Regions from separate parts of the Homo sapiens genome. Here region 1 is linked to region 2. The links come from fine-mapping of genetic effects on gene expression. Tissue or cell type: thyroid. Region 2 holds a variant in brackets; the other region holds the start of a gene. All regions are shown on one strand. Distances are between the middles of the regions. Region 1 holds the start of SH2D4A (SH2 domain containing 4A). Region 2 overlaps LOC105379300 (a long non-coding RNA gene).

Region 1 (12,430 bases), 40 kb after region 2:
AAAGAATCACTTGGAATTGTTTGGTTTTCCATCAATACCTTCTTATTGTACTTAAGATGAGTCACACACTGGGTGCGGTGGCTCACACCTGTAATCCAGTGCTCTGGGAGGCTGAGGTAGGAGGATGGCTTAAGGCCAGGAGTTCAAGACCAGGCTGGCCAACATGGCAAAACCCCATCTCTACAAAAAATAAAAAATTAGGCCGGGCGCGGTGGTTCACGCCTGTAATCCCAGCACTTTAGGAGGCCGAGGCGGGTGGATCATGAGGTCAGGAGATCGAGACCATCCTGGCTAACAAGGTGAAACCCCGTCTCTACTAAAAATACAAAAAATTAGCCGGGCGCGGTGGCGGGCGCCTGTAGTCCCAGCTACTCGGGAGGCTGAGGCAGGAGAATGGCGTGAACCCGGGAGGCAGAGCTTGCAGTGAGCCGAGATTGCGCCACTGCAGTCCGCAGTCCGGCCTGGGCGACAGAGCGAGACTCCGTCTCAAAAAAAAAAAAAAAAAAAAATTAGCCAGGCCTGGTGGCACATGCCTGTGGTCTTAGCTACTTGGGAGGAGCGTTTGAGCTTGGGAGGTTGAGGCTGCAGTGAGCAGTTATCAAGCCACTGCACTCCAGCCTGGGTGATAGAGTAAAACCCAGTCAAAAAAAAAAAAAAAAAAAAGAGTTGTTGCTTTGTTCAGGCTCAAAAGCTTGTGTGTGACTTGCAGGTCTTCAACTCTGAACCCAGGACTGAGTAGAAACTGGAGCCGAGTCATCTACACATCCAGCCGGCCATGAACCAGTGCAGCTTTGGAGGTAGCTCCCATCTGCTCTCCATCAAGAGACATAGGTGCTGTCTGTTAGAAGAGAGACCCGATGGTGACTTGCTTCACTTTCACTCTCAAATTCAGTAAGGTAAATGAGCTAGTTAAGTTAACGTAGTGTAATAACTATGTAAAGAGATTAGGCATCAGAAAGTCTTTGTTTTAATTCTGTATGCCACTGACTAGTTCTGTGATATTTAAATTGGTGAATGTGGCAATATAATTTCTATGAATCTAGAACCCTCTCTGTGAAGGGTTCAGGGAGCTACCCTCTTTCATATTTCTCTATTTGTGTAGAATGATCTGTCATCTATGGGCCATGCCCTTTCACTAGAAGCTATGCCAGGTGTTGTATACATTTAATTGTCCTTAAAATACCAACACACCAGTCAAAACCAACTCTGTTTCAAACTTAAACAATGGCACTTATCGAAGAGGCCATAAGCTGGCTCTGATTCAAACATACACTTAGAGGAAGAGGCAAAGTGTCTTACTTTACCAAAGGGCAGAATGCACTTCAACTTCCAGTTAGAGAAATCTGGAGGACACTTGGAGCCATGCATGGGGTGTGTGTGGGAGTGGGCGAGCCTTTGGTGCCAAAGAGGGAAATGCCTTCCTCAGCTAAAGGGCCAGAGGGAATGTCGGGGGTTTCAAAACCAGGAAGAAGTGGAAGGAAGGAAAGAAGTAAAACTTGTGTATGTTGCGCATCCCATAATAAGCCAGACACTGTCATCTTATGCATCTCATTTCATTCCCATCCTATTAAATGACAGTCTGGGTTTGGTGGAAAGTCTATCTCAGACTGAGTTTAGGAACTCACTCAAAAACCAGAATGAAGAAGATGATTATCTAGCCTTATATATGTTTCAGTAAAGTCCAGGAAGTGCCATTACTGCTTTTTCAACATTTCTCATAGCCAATTAACTTTATTTCCATATATTTTAGTGGCTCTCAACCTTGGCCACACATTAGTATCCCCTTGGATGCTTTGAAAAAATGCTGATATCTGCGCTCCATCTCATCCCAATCAAATAACTCCTTGGAGGAGTAGACAAAGAGGCAAATGTTACAAAGAAAATCTCCCTGGGTTATTTTAATATGTACTTGAGAACTGCTGTACTCATTTGCAGAAAATTCCTTATAAAACTAAAAGGGATTTGTGCACTTTTTGCAAAGATTGCCTGTAAGAGAGAAGCTAGGAAATGGAAACGCATTTCTGAATCTGGTCCAAAAAAGAGATGAGATTTGATTTTATGAGTCTAGTAGACCTTATCAAAACTGCCTGGGAAGATCCAAGGAACACCAGAATATTAGAAAAAGTTTGCTTCTGCTCCTTTCTCAGAGCTTTGACCCATAAAAAAGCACTGGTTACCATAGGCCACTGCAGATGTCCCATATCGTTGGGATAGCGACTGTCCAATTCCACCCATAAGTTTGAGGTGAGCAGTTCTCTGAGACACGGGCTGCTTGTCACTGTATTACAGAAATATAAGAAACCACCGGGCATGGTGGCTTACACCTGTAATCCCAGCACTTTGGGAGGCTGAGGCATGCAGATCACGAGGTCAGGAGATTGAGACCAGCCTGACCAACATGGAGAAATCCTGCCTCTGCTAAAAATACAAAAAATTAGCCAGGCGTGGTGGCACACACCTGTAGTCTCAGCTACTCTGGAGGCTAAGGCAGGAGAATCACTTGAACCCGGTAGGTGGAGGTTGCAGTGAGCCAAGATCGTGCCACCACACTCCAGCCTGGAGACAGAGCGAGACTCCATCTAAAACATATATATACACACATACATACATACACACACATACATATATACACATACACATACACACACACACACACACATATATATATGTATATATATATATACACACACACATATGAGAGACCAGAAATGTCTAATTAGCAACTCAGAGTGTGGATTTTAGAGAAAGAACTCCATAAAGGTAACTCTTGGAAAAACATTAAATATTACAGTAATGTAATTGATTCAAAGATGAATGTAAAGACCAATAATTTATCTTGGTGTTTATGAAGATGAAGAAATAAAGGCCCATACAGAACCATACACAAATGAAAATAGTTCAAAATCAAATCTAACTGCTCACAGAGAGCTGAAAACACAGCAGACCCTAAATATATTTTTAATGATTGATGAACTGATTAAGATTTATTTTGAGATTTGATCAGTTTTTAGTAAAGTTTAAATGTTTTTGTATTTTTCTTTCATTTGTACGTTACATTCACTGTGGTACAAGTGTATACCTGCTCTAACAGTTAAAAAGTGGTTGAGGTTTCTGATGCTGATCATAAAATATGACAGGAAAAATACTCTATTTTATAAAGAAAACATATGAAGGCAATTTTCATTGTCTGTAGAACTGAAATAAGGATTAATCTTTATCTCAGAAAAAGTGCAAAGTGGCTTATCCTGTCTTTCTGGCAACAATAGGGCTGGCAGTGTTGCACAACTCCAGGGGGCGCCTTACACATAGTGATCTCTGTGCTTGTCCCCTGCCCACCCACAGTTGTACAAGGGCCATGCTATGCCATTTTACTTGACAGCCCTGGGCAGCAGGGCTCCTAAGCAACAGTCCAAAAGGAAGGCCAAGGAACACATCCATTAAAATGTAGGCTATTTGTTTCATGGTATTCATTACCACGAATAAATGACAAATTAAAAATATTAGTAACCAATAAATAGATGTTTAGCTTTCTCTTTAAGTTCTGGCAGTGAACGCTGCAGCAGAGCATTCCTGAACACATGTTGGTGCTACCATGTTCCATGTCTGTGACTCGTCAGTGGCCAGCCCCTGTCAGCAGTCTTCCCCACATTCGTCCCTATAACACATCCTAGATCATGGAGGGGGGAAATGTTTTCCTCTGAGAGTACTGGCCCAAAGGGAGGGAAAAAGTAACTGAAGGCCCCACAAGTAATAGGCCACCTGATTTTTTTTTAGAGCATTATAAAACATTCTTGGCCAGGCGCAGTGGCTCACGCATGTAACCCAGCACTTTGGGGGGCCAAGGTAGGCAGATCACCTGAGGTAAGGAGTTTGAGACCAGCCTGGCCAACATGGTCAAACTTAGTCTCTACTAAAAAACAAACAAACAAAAAAAAAAAACAAAAACAAAATACAAAGTTAGCCAGTTGTGGTGACAGGTGCCTATAATCCTAGCTACTTGGGAGGCTGAGGCAGGAGAATCACTTGAACTCAGGAGGCCGAGGTTGCAGTGAACCAAGATTGCATCACTGCACTCCAAGCCTGGGCAAAAAGAGTGAAACTCCATCTCAAAAAAAAAAAAAAAAAAAAAAATTCGAATTGTCTACTTTTGAAATTAAGGGAAAAACATCTACCTTTTCTCTTCCAGACCATGCCAATTAAAAGAGGAAATTCCAGGAGTCAGCAGAAAGGAAACAAAAAGAGAAGGTGATAGAGGAGAGGGGAGACCAAGTGAAGAGGATGGAGAAGAAACTATAAAAATAAGAGAAGAAGAAGAGTTCATGGCAAATATAGGAAAGAGCCACGAGACAAGAAGGATGGAAATGGGCAGATGAGAGAAAAGGGAAGAGAGTCTGGGTTCTGAGTTGTTTGCATTATTTGTGTACAGCGTGCGTTCCTTTGGGCTGTCAATATTATTTCAAGATAGAAGCACCAAGGTGTTTCCTTACCTAATCTCTGAAGTGGCAGACCATCATCACTTCTGCCGGGTTCTATTGGTCAAGCATACCAACCTTTACAAAGTGGCAGGGAGCTATGCAAGGATGTGAATACCAGGAGGATAGGATCCCTGGGAATGACTTGGAAGGTAGGTGGCATGGTGGGCAGAACCCACAGCCTAGGGTGAGATGGCAGGAATGTGGAATTCCAGTACCTTAATGTGATATGAACTGATCTGAGTGAATGTGTTTGAACACTCACCACATGCCAAGAGCTCTTCTAATCTCTTTGCATGTAGCATCTCATTTAACCCTCTTGACAACTTACCGAGGCAGACACTCTTTATCTAGAGGAGGAAAGTGAGGTACAGAGGTTAGTAGCACAGTGATAAAGCTGTTATAAGGAAGGACTTGCCAGGACCTGGAGAGAGACTGGGTGTGAGGAAGGTAGGCTGTCACAGTGTCCTGTGGGATTTTTCCTAACTGATAAACCACCCTGTATGGTTCAACTGATGCATCCATGCAGGGCTAGGATTCATTCTGACCTCGTCATAGCAGCTTTCCAGGGGCCAATCCCACTCCAGCCTAAAGCACCCCATATGCTATCATTTAAACTGCAGTAGGAACTAAGCCTTACACCAGAAATTCCTCCCTGATGGGATTCCTGGAATTGTTCCTAAATAGCTGGGTCTTATTTCCTGACAATGCCGCCTGCCCCGAGGCTTGATGTAACTCTGCACAGCTTCTGCAGTTTGGAGAGGCAGGGAAATGCCATTTTGTGTTTGAATCCAGCAGGTCAGGCTCCTAAAGAGGTCAGGTAGTCCGTGGAGAGGACTACTGGTGTTTACTGTTTATTACATCTCTCCCAATACACAAAATCTGGGGTTCACCAAAGCAGGCGGTTTTCTTCCACATGCTCCTCTAGGATGGAAAATGCCCTCCAGTGGAAATGCCTTTCCACTGTGCTTCTGCTCAATTTTCCTCCAAGATTTCCTCTAACTGTGGACTGCCAGCTCCTCCCTGACGTCTTCAGGCACCAAGCCAACCTGTTCTTGTTGCAATCCTCAAGACTCCTTTCAGCATCTTAACTTTTCCCCCAGTTTTCTTTCATTTTCTCCACCTGTCTGTGTTGACTGCGGTCTCCTTCCTTCCAGCCTTTTCCTTCCTTCATCTTGTCCTACAAAGCCACACGTGTACCGACAAGTGCCAAAGAGTTTGATCATTTACTTAATGTCAACAAAAGAAAAAAAAAAAAAGCTCCAGAGTCGCCTTGGCCTGCAGCACCCAAGCAGAGTGAACAAGTGGGGCCTGCGCACCCTCCTACCCTACACCTAGCAAGGAACCCCGAGCTCTGAAACGTGGAAAGGCCCAGATCTGCAGATTTAATCTAAGTCCTGCAGTCCCCAAGAGATCACAGACTGCAGATCCCTGTCTCATGAACTAAGAGAGGAGAGGACAAGCCTACCCCGGACTACCGCAGCTCGGGGACAGCGCGCGGGCCAGGCGGCCCGAGATGCGCAGGCCACGCAGCCTCGCCGACGAGTGGCCCTGGAGAGCCTCCAGGCGCCCGGGTGGGGCCGCGATTGCGCCCCGCCAGTCACCCCGGCATGTGGGCGCGGCGGGGCGGCGCGGGCGGGACGGCTACAAGAGCTGTTTTGCGTCCGGGCCGGAGTATTTGCTCAGCCCGCCTGCGCCGCTTGGGACGCCTCTGCCTTTCCCTCCCTCCCTTCCCCGACGGCTTCTGGCGGCCAAGTGGATGTGGCGGGTGATCGAGCCACCCTGCCCAGGGGCGCCCAGCACTGGTAGGTGCTGGGGGTGGGGCGAGGCTTTGGGGAGAGTGTGCGTGGGGTGGGAGTAGGGGGAAGGGAATTTCCTCGGAGGTTGCATGGGTGCATGGGAGGCGCAGGGGCCAGAGCGGGCGGGCGGAAGCCTCACCCCCGCCTCCACCCCTTCGCGGCGCCCGGGGCGGGCTCAGGTGCGGGGTTGGGCGGCGAGAGCGGCCGCGGCGGGTGTCCGGTGTCCGGTGTCCGGTGTCCGGTGTCTGGAGCCGCTGGCTAGGTGAGCGGCGGTCCCCGGGGCCTGGGGGCTTGCAGGGGGTGGCGGGGGAACTTCGAGGGAGAGGGTCTGCCGGGGCTGAGGACCTTCGGGGAAGTTCTGGAATCCGGCAGGGACACGCGGCGCGTGCTTCCACCCGCGGGGAGTGCAGGCCCCGGGAGGGTCCGGGCTGGCCTAGAGTTTCTAGACTCCTAGCAGGAGCACGTCCTCGACTTGCGCATGGAAATCTTCCAGGAGGGAAGTCCCGGGAAACGGTGGCAGCTGGCGCAGCACCCCCGCAGCACGTTCCCCGCGCACCGGCACCCAGGGGCGCCCCCACGTGGGGTCTGGGAGCGCGCGGAGGCCAGTGCAGCGCCGCCTCCCTCGGGCTGCAGCGGCGGGGCTGGCCCAGACCCAGACCGGGTGCCCAGTGCGCTCAGCCAAGCGGCGCCCCTGCCCGCTCCTGGACTCGGGGGTCACGCGGGCACCGGAAGGAGCTACAGTTTGTAGGTTTTCTGAGTTGTCTCTCCCTTCCCAGGGAGCTTAGAGAAGCAGCAAGCGTGGCACCTCCCCCTTTCAAACAGATGCTCCTCATCGCTCCAAAGGCTTTCGTTTGATTGCTGGTTTAATAGAAACAACGACTTGGGTACGATTATTTTAAAATAGTGAATAAATAAGTGGAAAGCATACAGGGGCATAGATTTGGCATATGAGTGGAATTCTCTATGTATACTAAATCTGTGTGTACAGTAATCTCAAATTTCTGAAGAATAGTATATATTTACAAACTGCTGTCATCTCTGGTAATTTGTTTCATCCTCAAAAACAGCCCTTTTGCTGGTAGATGAATAAGATAAAGTTTCAATAAGAAAACAAAGTTGGACCACAGAGCTGGCTGTTTTAAAAGAATTAGAATTCAAACTGTATTGTTAATGTTATAGTTACACTGTCCATACCACAATACTTTTATTTATTTTTTATTTTATTAGGTCGGTGCAAAAGTAATTGCGGTTTTTACGTAAAAAAAACCGCAGTTACTTTTTTTTTGGCCATGTAAAACACAATAACTTTTGCACCGACCTAATGTTTTTAATTTTTGAGACAGGGTCTCCTTCTGTCACCCAGGCTGTGGTGCAGTGGTGCGATCTCGGCTCACTGTAGCCTCAAACTCTCCAACTCAAGAGATCCCCCCACCTCAACCTCCCAAGTAGGTGGGACTATAGGTGCGGGCCACCACGCCTGGCTAATTTTTATACTTTATGTAGAGACGGAGTTTTGCCATGTTGCCCAAGCAGGTCTTGAACTCCTGAGCTCCAGCAATCCACCCATGTCCACCTCCCAAAGTGTTGGGATTACATGTAGAACCACTGTGCCCGCCTACTATTTTTATGATTTAGCCTGTATCTAAGGCCTTTTAAAATTGTATTTTGTTTAGGTCTCAGAGTTATTCAAAAGACAGTTGTATTGTAGAACAGTGTGAAGGTGTGAGAATCAGGCCAAATCTATGGTATCATGGAAAACAACGGATTCTCTGACCTTTTAGCAATTGGTGTTCAGAATAAATAGCAGGTGTGGGCTTGTTGCTTATCATTTCTCTCTTTTAAGAAAGGGGCTGTGTTAGCTGAGCTATTCCTTTGTTGGATCTTGAATAACCGGAGATTTGCTGCCCTTGATATAGTATGGGAAAGTCCTCTGAGTTTGAATCAGTATCAGCAATGATTACTTCCTTGTCAGGGAGTGAAAGTAGGAAAGCCCTAGTTAGTTAATTTCCTGATTTCTATTTCTTCTACCCTGGCTCCACCAGGCTCCTTCGCTTCACAGTAGATTATGTCAGATACCCACACATTAGAAGTCACAGACTGAACCAGTCCTCGTTTCACAGATGAGGAAACTGAGTCCCAAGGAGGTGAGGTGACAGCACAGAGTCACACCGCTCACTAGAGGCGGAGCTGGGAGTTGAGGCTGGAGTGCCTCTGGGTGTCTTGGGTGTACTGTGCTGAGCTTGAGTTGGGGTCTGAGAAAGCCTTGGAGCGGGGGTTAGGGGTTGGGAATTAGAGGGTGAGGGGGACAGGTGATTTACACCAGTACCATTCAGCAGTGGCAGAATGGCCACATCGTCAACGGCCTGACCACAGATAGTTGTCGGCTGGGTCCCCCAAGTATTCTTGGAGGCACAAGGAAGCCAGTGTCTTTCCTTCAAGATGAACTAGTTAATTTTAATGTTAGAAATCCACGTTTGCTATAAAAAGTAAAACAAAACAACATAAAAATGGAAATAATGTGAGAATTTCATCACAGAGGTGCCATGAACCTCCTTGCACATGTGAGAGGCTGTGCTTTTTGTGCTGTTCTTAGTGTTTGTTTGGAAGGGGAAATTGTAGAGACGAAGTGGATGACTAAGTGCAAGGGGAAATGGGACTAAGTGTCTGGTGAATACGTGGGTAAGCAATGTCCACACCTGGGTCAGTGTGACAGTCGGTTCCTTGCTGTCCTTCCTGGCTGGGGTGTGTGCACCTGGCCTCCCCTAAGCTTAGCTACAGTTGACCAGGAGGAGGCTTCTGCCCTGTGTCAAGCACCATCAGTTCAGCGTTTCTGTTGCTGCAGGAATTTGCTGGCTTCCATTCTGAAATTTCATACATGGCACCACATCCTGCTGTTCTGATTCTGGGCACACAAATAAACTCACAAAAAGGCCTCTGTGTTGTGTATTACAGTGAAGCTGAGTTAGAGCTGGACTGCCCGGCTCTGCCGCTTACCAGCTGCTGACCTGTGCTCTATCTTCCTAATCTGTGAGATGGGCATAGTGATGGGCTGGACTCCAAGGGTTATTGTGAAGATTAAGTGAGTTAACACATGTAGAGTGCTTAATTAAGATGGTGCCTGGTACAAGAAGTGTTAGCTGTGTTATCAGGAATATGCAGGGCGGGGGAGACTGGAGGAATATGACTTTGACACTTTAAGGGTTTTAGATTCTAGGATCTACCCATGCCTTGAATAGGATTCGCTGCATTCAAAATGGGGAACACAGCAGAAGTCTCAACCCCAGCTGAACTGTTCATCTTCTGCCGTGTGTGATTTCTGCGAAAACCAACCATTGAACTTAAGGACATTTACTGGAATGTCAAGGAGTCATTCTGTCTCCTTTCTTACCACTTTATCTTGGAGCTTGTGGATTTCATTGGCTCCACCCTTTGAGAAGCTGCTAGAAACAAAAAGTCAAAAGTCAAGAAATCTTGACAAGACATCCATTTTTTTTTTTTTTTTTTTTTTTGGCTGTTCAAGCCTTTAAGGGTATCTCAATGCAAAATACAAAGTTGGCAAGTGGATCTGGGAAGGGCGTGATATTACTTTTAGTCCTTTAAAATTTTTCTCTTAATGTTTGGTTCCATTTGGATTCTGGTAGTTGAATGCTGCCGAGATGATAGGTTGCAGTCAGTAGGGATAGGTGTAGTTTCATCAAGGGCCTGGCTTCACAATGAACAGTCAGCGAATCTAAGAGCTGAGTATGCACACCACTCTGTGGTAGCCTAGCTGTTGAGCGTGCTTGTCTCAAAAGACAGGTGTAAATCAAGGAACTACTTTGCACGGAAGAGGAGGAAGACGGGAAGCTGAAGGAGGCCCCCAGATGGTGAGAGGGGCATTACAAATCTAACTGTATCAATGACAAGGTGAACGAAGAGAAACCAACAACACTACGATGGTCATAATATAGCTAAGTGACTTGTCTGAAGTTTAAGACTGTTTGAACATAGTATGGAGAAACAACGTATTTGAGAGCACATGGCAAGGTGGTAAGATTATTGAGGTGTTATTATAAATAACAAATTATTGGTCAATTTCTTTTTTTTTTCTTTTTTTATTTTTGAGACAGAGTCTCCCTCTGTTGCCCAGGCTGGAGTGTAGTGGCGCGATCTCGGCTCACTGCAACCTCTGCGTCCTAGGTTCAAGCGATCTCCTGTCTCAGCCTCTTGAGTAGCTGGGATTACAGGCACCCACCACCATGCCCAGCTAATTTCTGTATTTTTTGTTTTTTTAGTAGAGATGTTGGTCATACTGGTCAGACTGGTCTCGAACTCCTGACCTCGTGATCCCCCCTCTTTGGCCTCCCAAAGTGCTGGGATTACAGGCGTGAGCCACCCCGCCTGGCCTATTGGTCAATTTCTTAGGACACATGTGATTCTGAAAAGTTGTAGTAAGTTTTTTTTCTTATATCTTATTACATCGAATCCAAAGTCTTTTGTTTTCCAGAATAGATATATTTACATAGTTTCCTGCTGATTACAAAAGTATGATGGTTTATGGGACTTAGAAATTGTTTAAAAATAGAGAGAGAAAGTATGACAGTGTGGTAATATTTTTAAGCCAATATTTTAAAATAGAAATGTGGAAAGTAGAATGAAACCTCAGTAGGATTTCCAACCACAGGAGAACTTCTAGGAGGCCACTGTGCACTCTCGCTTTATGGTTTCTCTTTCAAGGAGCCATGCGGTAAAGTCATATAAATGAAGGATCCTTTGTTATGAACCTAATGACCTCTTCATCCCCCTAGTTTATCTGGTCTGTCCATTTAGATTTTATTAAACTAGGTTATCTGGAAAAAGCACACCTAAAACTCGGTGACCTTCCAGAATGTAGATGGATGTTCTCTCTTGCACCTGCCCTGATTTTCATGGCTCTAGTAGGTTATCTGGAAATTACATTATCCTTTTGTGAAGAGGAAAGTACATAATTTTGTTTATTTAATGCTACTTTTTAGGGAAATTGCAGAAAATGCATGGTGGTCTAGTTTTTATTTCTTCCTTTTTCTTCCTTGAGCATGGCTCTATTTTGGTTTGGTTTGGGATGAGTTACTCTGTGACATATCAAAAGTGGTATTTTCTTTTGAAATAGGTACTTTGCAGAGAGCCTTTTAATTTCTTCCTGTGACTTTTTTTTTTCTTTCTTTTTTCAGCCACACAGTTGGTGGTTTGTTAGGCTCTGGGGTAATAATGTGTTTGCTTAGTTGGGAGCTGGACAAACCTCTGTGAACTTTTTTTGTTTGCCTGAGATTGACCTGTATAAAGTTAGGGTTTGTTTTCTTTTTTTTTTTGACAGAGTATCTTTAGAAATTACAGGATAGAGGTTATACAAACTCTTAACAAAGTGTGCCTCAGATTTTCTTCTTCTCTTTTCTCTCTGAACTGAAAAGTGATACTGTGTTTCCTCCTAGCTTTTTTTTTTAAACCCGTCCTAGCCAGTGTCCACACATTTTAACACGCTGCCTGAATGTGGGCTCTTTCTCTCTGCAGGTTCAGTGAACAGCATTTTGGACAGGACATTTGGTGCCAGGTCTGAGTAGCCAGTTTGCTGAATTATTGTCCCAGTCAGCCAGGATTGTGAGCTGTTTGGGAAGTTTCGTGGAAACGCCCAAGTGCCAGCACAGGTGGAGGGACACCTGGAGGCCAGTTTCAGGAACTTTTGCCACAAGTATAAAAGACTTCAGAAGTGCAAAGATGCTGAAACAGATACTGTCGGAGATGTACATAGATCCTGATCTACTGGCAGAGCTCAGCGAAGAACAGAAACAGATCCTGTTCTTCAAGATGAGAGAGGAACAGATCCGACGATGGAAAGAAAGAGAAGCAGCTATGGAAAGAAAGGAGTCCCTGCCAGTGAAACCCAGACCAAAGAAAGGTAAACTTATCCACGTTTCTTCTGTGGATGTGTTGGTAGAACAGCTCCTGGCTTGCTTTGACAATTTCACACTAGTCACAAGCAAAGCAGGTGCAAGTTCCAGTTTGGCAGATGAATCCTAAATGTTATTGAGAATCTAATAGTGCAGTATGTCCACCTGAAGTCTACACACACACACACAGCATTCACCATGGAGTTGCATAGCTATGAGGAAATCTTTTACTTGAAACCAGACTAACCTGAAGCTG
Region 2 (12,430 bases):
ATTCCCGGAGCCGGTGGCTTCCAGAGCCTCCAGAAGCCTCCAGTGCCGCCTGCTGGAAGAACATTTTATTTCATGCAACTTTACGAGGTTGAATGCGGTGAACCCGGGAAACTTGGAAATTCCCATAAAAAGGCAAAGGCTGTAAGCCACCCAATTCATATTCTCTTAATGTCAGCAAATAGAGGCCCACCCTAAAGGGAGATTCTGCAAAAAGGAGAGAGGGAGGAGAGGGCTGGAGAGAGGGAAGCAGGAAGAAAGGAAAAATCAGTTGCTGCTCTTTGGCTAGGCAGTCACCTGGTTAGGTGCCCTACATACTCTATCTCTCAGCCAATGCACAGCTGGGCAGCTTTATGGGATGCATAGAAATAACAATATCAATATCATATGGAAAACATATGCCCTAAAACAACAAAAGCAAGATATTAGAACCCATGGACCTGATCCACATTGAATAAATATTATATTGTATGCCAACATCGGCTCTAAGCCAATCAAAACAGCTCTCAACTCAATAAGTCTTCCATAAAATAACTACAAGGAAGTTATAGGACCCTAGGAACTACTCCAGCTAGAAGCAAAAATGAAGGGCTCTGGCAAGTTTTGACAAGGAAGATAGAAAGACACTATTTCAGGAGGGTGGCCTGGTAACACAGCTACTTTATACCTAGGAAAATTTTAATCTTGGGGTAAATCAGAAACCATAAATAACATACAAATGAAGATCCTGGGTATTTTAATCTGCAGTTTTTCGGTTCTGTGAACATAAGTAAAAGTTGGTATCAGTCCCCGTGTGAGGCTTGGGGTCACTAGGCCCCTTTGTCACCGCCATTGCCACCCACAGCAGTAATTTTTTGACAATGATGATTCTTTGTATAGGTATAGATATAGGAACATACAACCCTAGTTTTAAAAACTGAAAACGTGTGACTCTCTCATCCTACATCTCATAAAGTCACTCATTCTGTTTATTCTTCTCAATAGCAGAGATTTTCTAAGTACAACAACAATAACAAAATTGCTGCAGGTAAGACTGATCATGCCATTGAGAATGGAGTGGCTTAGGGAAGGGAAAATTGTAGCAGAAGTTTTCAAAACAAAGGACTTTTGGCTCTCAGTGACACACCAGGAAAGTCTAAAGTCCTTCAATTGTCCTTTAAAGTTTCCTCAGGTGGGGGCTGGACACAGTGGCTCACACCTGTAATCCCAGCACTTTGGGAAGCCGAGGTGGGCAGATCACATGAGGCCAGGAGTTCAAGACCAGCCTGGCCAACATGGCGAAACCTCTTCTCTACTAAAAATACAAAAATTAGCCAGCCATGGTGGCACATGCCTGTAATCTGAGTTACTTGGGAGGCTGAGGCACAAGAATCACTTGAACCCGGGAGGCAGAGATTGCAGTGAGCCAAAATTGTGCCACTACACTCCAGCCTGGGTGACAGAGCAAGACTCAGTCTCGAAATAAATAAATAAATAAATAAATAAATAAATAAATAAATAAACAAATAAAATAAAGTCTCCTCAGATGAATTGTTATTTAGAAAAAGGGTCAGAGACTGAGATTTCACTAAGTTCCTGTTGTCTCTGTAATGTCCCCTGCCTCACAGACTAAACCATCTGATTTGTTTAGAAGGATCTGGAATCTCTCTTGGGTTTTTCAGCATCATGCAACAACTTAGGACATTTAGTCGTGTTGCGAGAGCAATTCCAGCCTTGAAAGAAAAGGCCAGGGCAGATGGCTGAAAACAACTTTAAAGGTTGACTGCGTGTTTAATGGTATTTATTTCCTTCCTCTGCCACTCTCAGCCTAATTGGTTCTAAAAGTCGGTATGAGGTAATATACAGAACATGAGCTTTGAAGTCAGGGAGACCTGAGTTCCAATCCCAGCTCTTCCGTGTGTCAGTTGAGCAGCACAGGCAGACTTAACTTAACCTTTCTTTTTTTTTTTTTTTTTTTTGAGACTGGGTCTCAGTCTGTCTCTCAGGCTGGAGTGCAGTGGCACAATCTCAGCTCGGCAACCTCTGCCTCCCAGGTTCAAGGGATTCTCGGGCCTCAGCCTCCTGAGTAGCTAGAACTGCAAGCAGGTACCACCATGCCTGGCTAATTTTTGTATTTTTAGTACAGATGGGGTTTCACCGTGTTAGCCAGGATGGTCTCGATCTCCTGACCTCACGATCCAGCCACTTTGGCCTCCCAAAGTGCTGGGATTACAGGCATGAGCCACCGCACCTGGCCCTTACTTAACCTTTCTGAACATTGGTTGCTTCATGTATAAAATGGGAATACAATGGGCCTATCTCATAAGCTCTTCCTAACAGGTTGTAGAAAGGAAAGGAGAAAGTGTGTGATCCCCTTAGCCTGGTGCCAGCCTCCTCGGAGGAACCCAGAGAATGAGCATGATCATGGTGCTGAAGATGAGATGTTCATGTGGGAAGAGGGAAGAACTTGGCAGTGCTCTTCTCCCACCTTCTAGGGTGGAAATGACCTAAATGTCCTAAAACCTGGCCTCTGCCCTGCATGGATTAACCCGCCCAGCCACTAGAAGGTGGAGGGAAAGACCGAGGCTCCAAAAGGAAAATGTTTGAAAGGCTCAGCATGATGATGAAGGATGGGACCTCGTAGCCTGCACTGTACCACCTGCTTCCTCAATGTCATTTCTGGCACCTCGCACGATGCGTGGGACATGGTAGGCATTGCATGAATATTTACTGAGTGGATCCTCTGGCCCCAGGCATGTGGATGAGCAGAGAGAGCCAGGCCCTGGGCAACTCTGTTGCTTCCTTTGTGCCTGGCCACTCATGGTGGCAGTAGCTTCTGTGCCCTGTCTGTGCCCTGGCCCAACCACTTACTAGCCCTGGGATCCCAGGCAGATTAATGACCCCCCTGAGGCTCAGTTTGCTAATCTGCAAAATGGGGATAACAATTTCACATAGCTGTTTATAGGATTAAAATGTAAGATATAAAAGGCACATCTTACAGTACCTAGCACACAGTAAAAACTTAATGCCAGCTGTTTAAATTGCCATCTTCACTATCATAGTGTTATTACTAGAATTATTATTCTGGCTACATGCTGATTGTTATGTTATTCTAGAACCTGGCTTCTGGCCCCCGGGTCACCAATTTCAGGCCACTCTCAAGCATAGTAATCAATCTTGTTAAGGGCAGTGGCATCTGTCACTGTTCTGAGCTTCCTCCATTGCCAATGAGTGGTTTTGTGGGATTCCCAGTACGAAGCATATGGCCGAGTGGGGTGGCTCATGCCTGTAATCCCAGCACTTGGGGAGGCCAAGGCGGGCAGATCACCTGAGGTCAGGAGTTCATAACCAGCCTGGCCAACATGGTAAAACCCCATCTCTACAAAAAATACAAAAATTAGCTTGGCGTGTTGGCAGGTGCCTGTAATCCCAGCTACTTGGGAGGCTGAGGCAGCAGAATCGCTTGAACCCAGGATGTGGAGGTTCCAGTGAGCTGAGGTCAGGCCATTGCACTCCAGCCTGGGGAACAAGAGCGAAACTCCATCTCAAAATCAATCAATCAATCATAAAAAGAGAATCCTGTGGTTAGAGGACGCCCTCTTCAGGTAGTGACCCTTCTCTTGCAACATCATGTTTATTCAAGGTTGCTCATTCCTGTTCATCCATGTGTGGAATGTCTCTTGGACAGCCTGGGAGTTTGAGGGCTGAAATTGAAGTGAAGCTACTATGTGTCCAGTCATGGGTGGCTGATAAGAGCCTGGGATTTTATTTTATTTTATTTTTTTTGAGACAGTCTCCCTCTGTCGCCCAGGCTGGAGTGCAGTGACACAATCTCGGCTCACTGCAAGCTCCGCCTCCCGGGTTCATGCCATTCTCCTGCCTCAGCCTCCCGAGTAGCTGGGACTACAGTCGCCCGCCACCACGCCTGGCTAATTTTTGTATTTTTAGTACAGACGGGGTTTCACCATGTTAGCCAGGATGGTGTCGATCTCCTGACCTCGTGATCCACCTGCCTCGGCCTCCCAAAGTGCTGGGATTGCAGGGGCCGGGATTTAAATACATCTTCTGCAAAGGGGCTTCCACGTGTAGAAATTTTCTGTCATGCCTAAAATTCAACCCCCAGAGAGTCATTCCTTCTGCATCTGGAGAACATGGTCTTCCAGGGAGCATTATTACATGGCACTACTCCTAGAGAAATCACTCCTGAAGGTGCCATTACAATAGCAGCAGCATAAGAAGAGAAGTGAATATCATTTGCACATTAATATCATTATCTTATGCCAGGCACAGCGCTGAGCCCTTTATGTGCATGATCTCACTATATTCCAACAGTTTGAGGTGGGCATGGCCAGCCCCATTTTTATACATAAGGAAACTGTGCTTCAGGGAGATTAGGAAACATGAGCTAAGTCATGCAATTAGTAGGTGGTGGACCTGGGCACAGTGCCAAAAACTGGGTGGGTGAAAACAATAGCAATTGTTTTTCTGACAGTTCTGGAGATTAGACGTCCCAAATCAAAGTGTCAGCGGGGGAAACCTACCTGGGAGAAACCTTCTGAAACCTGGAGGAGAGACTCTTTCCTTGCCTCTCCCTAGCTTCCCGTAGGGGTCAGTAATCCTTGGTGCTCCTTGGCTTGCAGCTGCCTCGCTCCAATCTCTGTCTCTGCTGTCACATGGCCTTGCCTCTGTGTGCCTGTGTCTTCACCTGGCATTCATCTACCTGTGGGTCTCTCTCCTCCTCCTTTAAGGACACGAGCCATATTGGATTAAGGAGTCACTCTCCTCCAGTGTCAGCTCATCTTAATGTAGGTAATTACATTTGCAATTATCCTCTTTCCAAATGAAGTCCCATTGTGCGGTACTGGGGATTAGGACTTCAATATATCTTTTTGCGGAACCACAATTCAACCCATAACATTCAGTAAAATATGTCACGTGTCATGTGAACTAAAACATGCTCTTACCAAGCAAAAATATGATACCTTGAAGTTCATATTCTATTTCACTCTTAAATTTTTAAAAAACCATATAAAAGCTCCAGGTGGCCACTTGAAGAAGGACAAAATTGAAGGACACTTTCAGTTTCTTTGTCCTTATAATTCCTGTGTTAGCTTTATTTTAAATCTACTGTTTAAATTCAAATAAGTGTATTACTACCAGGGTTGTAGACAAAAACTGTGCCTCAGGTGAGTTCAAATCACTCACAGCTGTGATAAACTTGTTCTCTGAATGAAAGCATGTATTTGTGTTCCCATGTATAATTAGTAGACTTGCCAGATGAAATACAAGACATCTGTTAAATTTAAATTTCAAGCAAACAACAATGTTTATTTTGGTATAAGTATGTCTGAAATAAACATGAGGCATATTTATACTAAAAATCATTTGCAGTTTACCTGGAATTCGAATTTAACTGGGCATCTCTTATCTTTATTGTTAAATCTAGCATCTCTAGCTGAGAGACCTTGGAATTAACTTTCATGTGGAATACAAGGCTTATTAGAGGTTAAGAAACAAAAATGTGCTAAGTTGAAGCTTTCACACATATCATTAAAATTCAATAGTAACCATGACAATTATTTGCAATGGCGACCTACAAAATAATTTTTCAGGAAAGACTATTTTATCACTGACATGATTTAAAACTGCCAAACACAACAATAACAAAAGCAACCTAATTTTTAGTCAGTTTTATAATTGTTTTTACGTTTTCAACAGATAATGCGGCCTCTTATTGTTTGCATGGGAAGCTGGTGGTATCCACTGTCCCACCGTTAGTCCATTACTGACTGTGAATATTAAACATATAACATGAGCGGAACACAGTCTCAAAAGCCCTCTTTCACATCCATTATTCAATTTAATCCTTGTAGTGGCCCTTTGGATAGGCCGATGTGGTTTAAAAAGTATGTAAATGAGAAAGCTTGTGTGACTGACTTACCCACAGCCATGCACTTCCCGCAAGGTAGATCAAGGGCCAGTGGCCCTGTCTGTTAACCTTTTGCCCGGGACACCTTGGTTCTAATGCTAGTTTTACCACAAACTAAACTGACTTGAGCCACTTTATTTATCTTGGCCTCACTTTCCTCATGTATAGAAAAAGACAGAGTTGAGCCAGGTGACTTTTGAGATGTCTTCTAGCTCTGAGATTCTACAGTTCAGATCTTGGGACCAGTTCAGACCCAGGCATTTAGCCTCTTACCGTTGGCTGGGAGCAAGAGAGGAGAGCCGGGACACAGCACAGGGATGTGGGAGTGGTGTCGAAGCATCCCAGACTTTACCTCTGTCATCATTTGGCCCTGGAGCAGTGAAGTGCCGCTGTGCAAACAGCAAACAATACACACTGCACTGCACTCGCCCCTAAAACTAGAGAATGGTGCCAAGGAATCTTGCTGGGAA[C/T]GCCCTTCTCATCAGCTCACACTCACACACGCCAAGAGCATGTACGCACACCGTACACACAAAGTCAAAGGACCGAGACTCTTCAGGTTCTATATGAGAGCCTTATTAAGGACGCTTCAAAATTCTCACCATCAGCCAGTGGACAGGGGGTCAGCAGCCCCATTAATCTACTTCCAGGGTGGGTCTGATCTCATTGACACCCATGTGAATCCAGTGACTTGGTCTCTAGCACAGAGTTTTATTCAAGCCTCAGTGCACTTGCTATCTCTGCCACTCAGTTTTTGTGTTTTATTATTACCTTTGTGAATTTTTAAGATATTATGTGGGTGTGCAGGCAGATGAGGCCTGGAGAGTGTGCTGGGCTGGGAGAAGACAGAAAAGCAGGTAAGGAAGAACATTAAAAGCAAAGAGAAGAGAAAGGCCTGAGGAATCCTCTTATTGCCTGCATCTAACATATATATGTATGTATGTATAATACCTATAATTCATATACATATATATCAAAATAATAACTGCAGCAGTAACAAATAGAACAATAGATATATTTAATTGCAAGACCGAATAGAGTAACATACTTTTTTCCTTCCAAGTTAATTTACGGATTTAACACAATCCCAGAGCTGGAAAAGGCTCTATGAAGCAGACTATCTGCTACGTCAGGGGTGACTTCATAAATCAGCACAACACTTCGAAAGCAAGTTGGAAATATGTGTAAAGAATTAAAAAATATCAAAGCCCATTGGCCATAATTTACCTCTGGGAATCTGCCCTAAAGAAATAATCCAAAATAAAAAAAAACCTATGTGTTCATAGATGCTCAGTACAGTATTTATAATAATGAAAAACTGGAAGGAATTTAAATGCTTACTAATGGAGAATGGTTATGGAAAAACATAAAAGGGATATTATGCAGATATTAAAATTATTGCACAGCAAATAATGTTAAGGAAAAAAGTACAACATAAGTCTCTATTGTTATAACTGGCAAAAAGCTTAGAAGCAAATGTTTTTAAAAGTTGCCTTTTTGATTTGGATGGTAGGTAACTTCTTTCCTTTCTAAATATTCTGTAATTTTCCTGTTATAATAAGAGAAAAGTAAAATGTAGACCAAAATTGAGTTAGTAAAGTGTACTTTATTTTTTATGACGCAACTAACCACATCCCATATTTGGCCTGCCAAATATCACTACTCACCTGGTAGCCTTTTTCCTTAATTGTGGACACAGTCCCTGAGAAGAAAAATATTAATCTTATAAACTAAAACAATTACACAAGAAGTATTTTATCTCAAAGCAGCCCCTGCATAGAGCAGGCCTGGGTACACAGTTTACCGCAGTGAGTCAACCTGCAGGGCTGCACTGGCTCTGGAGCAGGCTCAGGGGAGGGCAGTGTCTATAAAGAGATCTGGCCCATGTAATGTGTTTGTTATATCTCAAGAGGACAAGTTATAGGAAGAACCCAAGAAAGAACCGTAAATGAGATGAAGGCCATTGTTTTTAATCCCCCTGTTTTAACCTGTTCTCATGCTGCTAATAAAAATATACTCACTCAAGACTGGGTAATTTAAAAAGGAAAGAGGTTTACTGGACTCACAGCTCCACATGGCTGGAGAGGTCTCACAATTGAGGCTGAAGGCAAAGGAGGAGCAAAGTCACATCTTACATGGCGGCAGGCAAGCGAGGGCATGTGCAGGGGAGCTCTCCTTTATAAAACCATCAGTGCTCATGAGACTTACTCACTATCACCAGAACAGCACAGGAAAAACCCTCCCCCATGATTCAGTTACCTCCCACTGGGACACTGCCACGACAGGTGGAAATTATAAGAGCTACAATTCAAGATGAGATTTGGGGGGAAACAGCCAAATCATATCACCCTTTCACTACAATTTCTCCATTCAGACACTGGTTTAATCTCCTGCTGAACTATGTGTATTTCTGTAAGCCATCTCAAATTTATATTGGAACAAGATGATTATCTACATAAATAAAACAGTCAGATTAAAACAACATGAGAATCAACTCTACATGCAGCACTATTGAAGGCATATGGGATGAGGGGCGAGCAGTTAGAATTCTCAGACATGGTGCCTCCCGCACAAGAGCCAAGCATCTAGTCGGGGATATATGGGGGGAAATGGGGCCATGAGATATGAAGGTAAATTAAGAGATGAAGGGGTCCAGGCACAGTGGCTCATGCCTGTAATCCCAGAACTTTGGGAGGCCAAGGCAGGTGGATCACCTGAAGTCAGGAGTTCCAGATCAGCCTGGCCAACCTGGCAAAACCCTATCTCTACTAAAAATACAAAAATTATCAAAGCGTGGTGGTGGGTGCATGTAATCCCAGCTACTTGGGAGGCTGAGGCAGGAGAATCACTTGAACCCGGGAGGCGGAGGTTGCAGTGAGCAGAGATCACATCACTGCACTCTAGCCTGGGTGACAAAAGTGAAACTCCATCTCAAAAAAAAAAAAAAGAGATGAAGGGGAAAAAAATTATAAGAAAAGAGAAGGATCAGGGAACTGTAGGTCTGGGAGAGATACCAAAATAAAAAAGACATCCCAAGGAAGACAGACTGCCTTGTGGACCACAGAACACGTAAGAACATAATAGCACCACTATGAAATAAATTGAGTTTTGGTTTGGCTTCATATTTCTGCTTTCTGGTTGAGGTACTGGGGAACCTCATTTGGATTCAAGTGCAAACACATCTTGTTCATTTTGATTTATCTGAGAAATTTCAATCAAGTATCTTAGCACAGCACAGTACTCAGGCTGTCATTCCTTTGAAAAAGACAGGTGATGTATGGGTGCAACCACCGCAGGGTCTTCTGCACGCTGGGCTTTGCGGCTGCCCTGGAAGCTACTAAGCTTATCAATCTTGGCCCTTGGCTGGCACATTCAGCCTCTATTGTTAGAGGCTGCTGAACATGGCTTAGGTCCTGGTCAAAAGATTATGTGAAAGTTTAAACAGACACTGAAATTATTCTGTTTTTCTTTGCTTGAATGATGAACTGAGCTATTATTCCTGAAGGGTATGGCCTGGGTTTTTATTACTATGCAGATGAGCTAAGGTTATTTCACTCTGCTGTCAAATTAAAAAGCTGTGCTTTCTTTTTGAACAGCTCACACGATGCTGGGACAGGGACATCACTGAATTTTTCTGCAGCAAATTGAAGACCAAATGGGAATTTCTGCCTCAATCAGCATCCATTGGGAATCAACTTGATGTGAGGCGTTATGCTAAATAAGGCAAGTTAAAGAGATATATACAGATGACATGAGCCCTGCTTCCAGGTTGCTGAGAAGGAGCACCTCACAGAGATCAAACAGAACATTTACGTACGAAAAAGAGTTCAATAATGGCATGAGGAGGCAATGTGAATAATTTCAGGCTGGAGAGTAGGAAAGTCATTAAAATATATTGATTGCAAGCCCTACCTGATCTGCCATCCAGCCCCCACCCTCAGCTCTGCCTTAATCTCCTCCAGTTCTGCCTTCTCCTCCCTATGCTCCAGGCACTCTGGCCACCTCCCTTTTCCTGGAGCATGTCAGGCAGGCTCACATCCAAGGGCCTCTGTCCAGGCTCTCTCCTTTGTCTGATAGCTCTTCCCCAGATGTCTACATGTCTTCTCCCTCACTTCCTGTAGGCTTCTATGCACAATTCACACTGAGAAAAGCCTTCCCTGACCACCCTATCTACACTTGCAACTCCCCTTCCAAGACCCACTCTCTGCATTATTTTTGTCAGCACCTACTACTGTCTAACATAATGCATGATTTACTTGGCCATATTGCTTTTTATCCTGGTCCCTCTCTTAAATATAAGCTATAAGCTTCAAGAAGGCAGGAAATTTTGTCTGCTTTTTTTTTTTTCTTGCTCTGTCGCCCAGGCTGGAGTGCAGTGGCGTGATCTCAGCTCACTGCAAGCTCTGCCTCCCGGGTTCACACCATTCTCCTGCCTCAGCATCCCGAGTAGCTGGGACTACATGCACCCACCACCATGCCCGGCTAATTTTTTGTACTTTTAGTAGAGACGGGGTTTCACCGTGTTAGCCAGGATGGTCTCGATCTCCTGACCTCGTGATCTCCCCGCCTCGGCCTCCCAAAGTGCTGGTATTAGAGGCATGAGCCACGGCGCCCAGCCATTTTGTCTGCTTTGTTACTGCTACATCTCCACAGCCCGGAGCAGTGACCAACACGTGGTGGATATTCCTGAATATTTCTCACATGAATGAACTAATTGCCTCTTGCTTCTCTTGCACTGTGCGAAGTGCTTTATGTAAGACGTGTATTTGAACACTCTTGGCAATTCCATGAGGCAGATGTTATTTGGAGGAATTACAATGTGTCCCCTCGGGCCCACAGCAATGTTTTAGAGTCCTCATCAGGGCAAGGTCTGTTGGATGTTTCCCATAAGGTTTCACAGGGCAGTGTTCCTCACTTTGGTAAATTTACTCTGGACCAAGGTGTATGGACTTTGGCCTCGCTGGATCAGAAACACTTTTTCAAATTGCCAACGTTTTCATTAACAGTGAGAGAGAAAACTGCCCAATGAACAGGCGTGAACACCACGTGCTGAGTATATTCCTTTCTATGAAGTCAGACCCACATGGGAAGCCAACCGAACAACAGCACCACTGCAAGCCTCCAGCATTTATCTCTACGTTAGGACTTTCCCCCACAAAGCTCAGCCCAAGTCAAAGCTCCCTCTGCTTTGGGCAGAGCTTGGTGAGAGAGCTGATTCATCTCCTTTGCTCCTGTTTTCATTCTCCATGCTTCTCTTTCCTGCTCTGTGCCCCAAGACCCCAGCCTTTACAGCTTGCCTGCTGGGTTTATTTCTTTTGACTTCTGGTCAGACACCAGTGGGAGTCACCAGCAGGACAGTTGATGAACAGGAAGAGAAGGAATCGGGATATTTCCCCAAACTTCCCACTGCAGGCTCATCAATTTGGCGGTGGCTATTTTCATGTACAGCCGAGCTCTATCTAGCCAGGTCCAGTGATGTCATTTCTCCTTCCAAGCCTGGGGCAGCGGCGGAGGAGGGGATAGCTCCCAACTGTGCAAAAGCCCTGGAGGTTCCACCATCTCTTGTTGGTTCTCTTAGGTCTATCCACACCTTTGTTAACCTCCTTATGAAACTCTCTTCAATTAATCTTTAAGTGTGCTACCTGTTTTCTACCAGCACCCAGACTGATACAATGTCACTGCCAGGGATTGACTTGAAGGCTTTCCATTGTCTGTACTTCAAAGATTAATCAACTCACCAACTCGTCTATGAATTAACTAGTGCTTTTCTTGAGCAGTGCCGTCCAACAGACCTTTCTGTGTTGACGGAAATGTCCTCGATCTATGTTGTCCCACTAGCCACATTATCGGTGGGCACTTAAAATGTGACCAGTGAGACTGGGGAACTAAATTTTTAACTTTGTTTAAATTTACTCAATTTTAGTTTAAATAGTTACACGTGAGCCACCATACTAGCTGATGCAGGTCTGGCCATGTCATCAGTCAAGTACTGTTGACCTGGTAGTTATTTTTCCTTCAAATGACATATCTGTGTCTCATCATTTATGGGAGCAGTCTTCCTAATTTCCAAGATATTGATGGAAAACTCACCATAGCCCCCAGGAACTACAACAATATTATCTAGAGAGATTAAGCAACTTGCCAGCATGGGCTGCATGACAATACTTATGACAGCGTTAGTTAAACAAGAGAACAGTGTTACACAGGAAACTATTTCATGGGTTCCCTGTTTCTGTAGGAGAAGTGGAACAAAACTTTCCCCCTTCATCCCGATAGCAAAGAATTCAGCAGCAAGCTAACAATATCACAGTAGCATGTAAGTTCCTGGCGGATAGTGACTTGCTGATAGTGAATTAGGAAGGGGAATTGGACATGCACAGGACGGGCTTTCTCCTCCTCCTAGGAACCAGCTGTCTGTAGGAAACCTACGATCAGCTCTGCTCCTCCAAGGAAAACTGCAATCAGCTCTGCTTCTCCATCAGGAAACAGTATAGGGAAGGCTGCCAGGTGGAGAGCCTGAATTGACCT

Evidence for each region.
Region 1: it holds the start of SH2D4A, and the variant in region 2 is fine-mapped to the expression of SH2D4A in thyroid (GTEx, PIP above 0.99).

Annotation. Positions count from the first base shown.
Region 1 is chr8:19,307,547-19,319,976 of GRCh38, forward strand. It overlaps SH2D4A (SH2 domain containing 4A), which reads left to right and starts at 6,147. Exons shown (of 10, transcript NM_022071.4): 1 at 6,147-6,277; 2 at 11,798-12,182. The coding sequence starts at 12,002. It overlaps LOC105379306 (a long non-coding RNA gene), which reads left to right. Exons shown (of 4, transcript XR_949550.3): 3 at 710-896; 4 at 4,187-4,278.
Region 2 is chr8:19,267,763-19,280,192 of GRCh38, forward strand. It overlaps LOC105379300 (a long non-coding RNA gene), which reads left to right. Exons shown (of 5, transcript XR_949537.2): 5 at 9,499-9,619. Among named protein-coding and RNA genes, the nearest start is that of SH2D4A, 40 kb to the right of the region's middle. The variant C/T (reference allele first, on the strand shown) is at 6,376.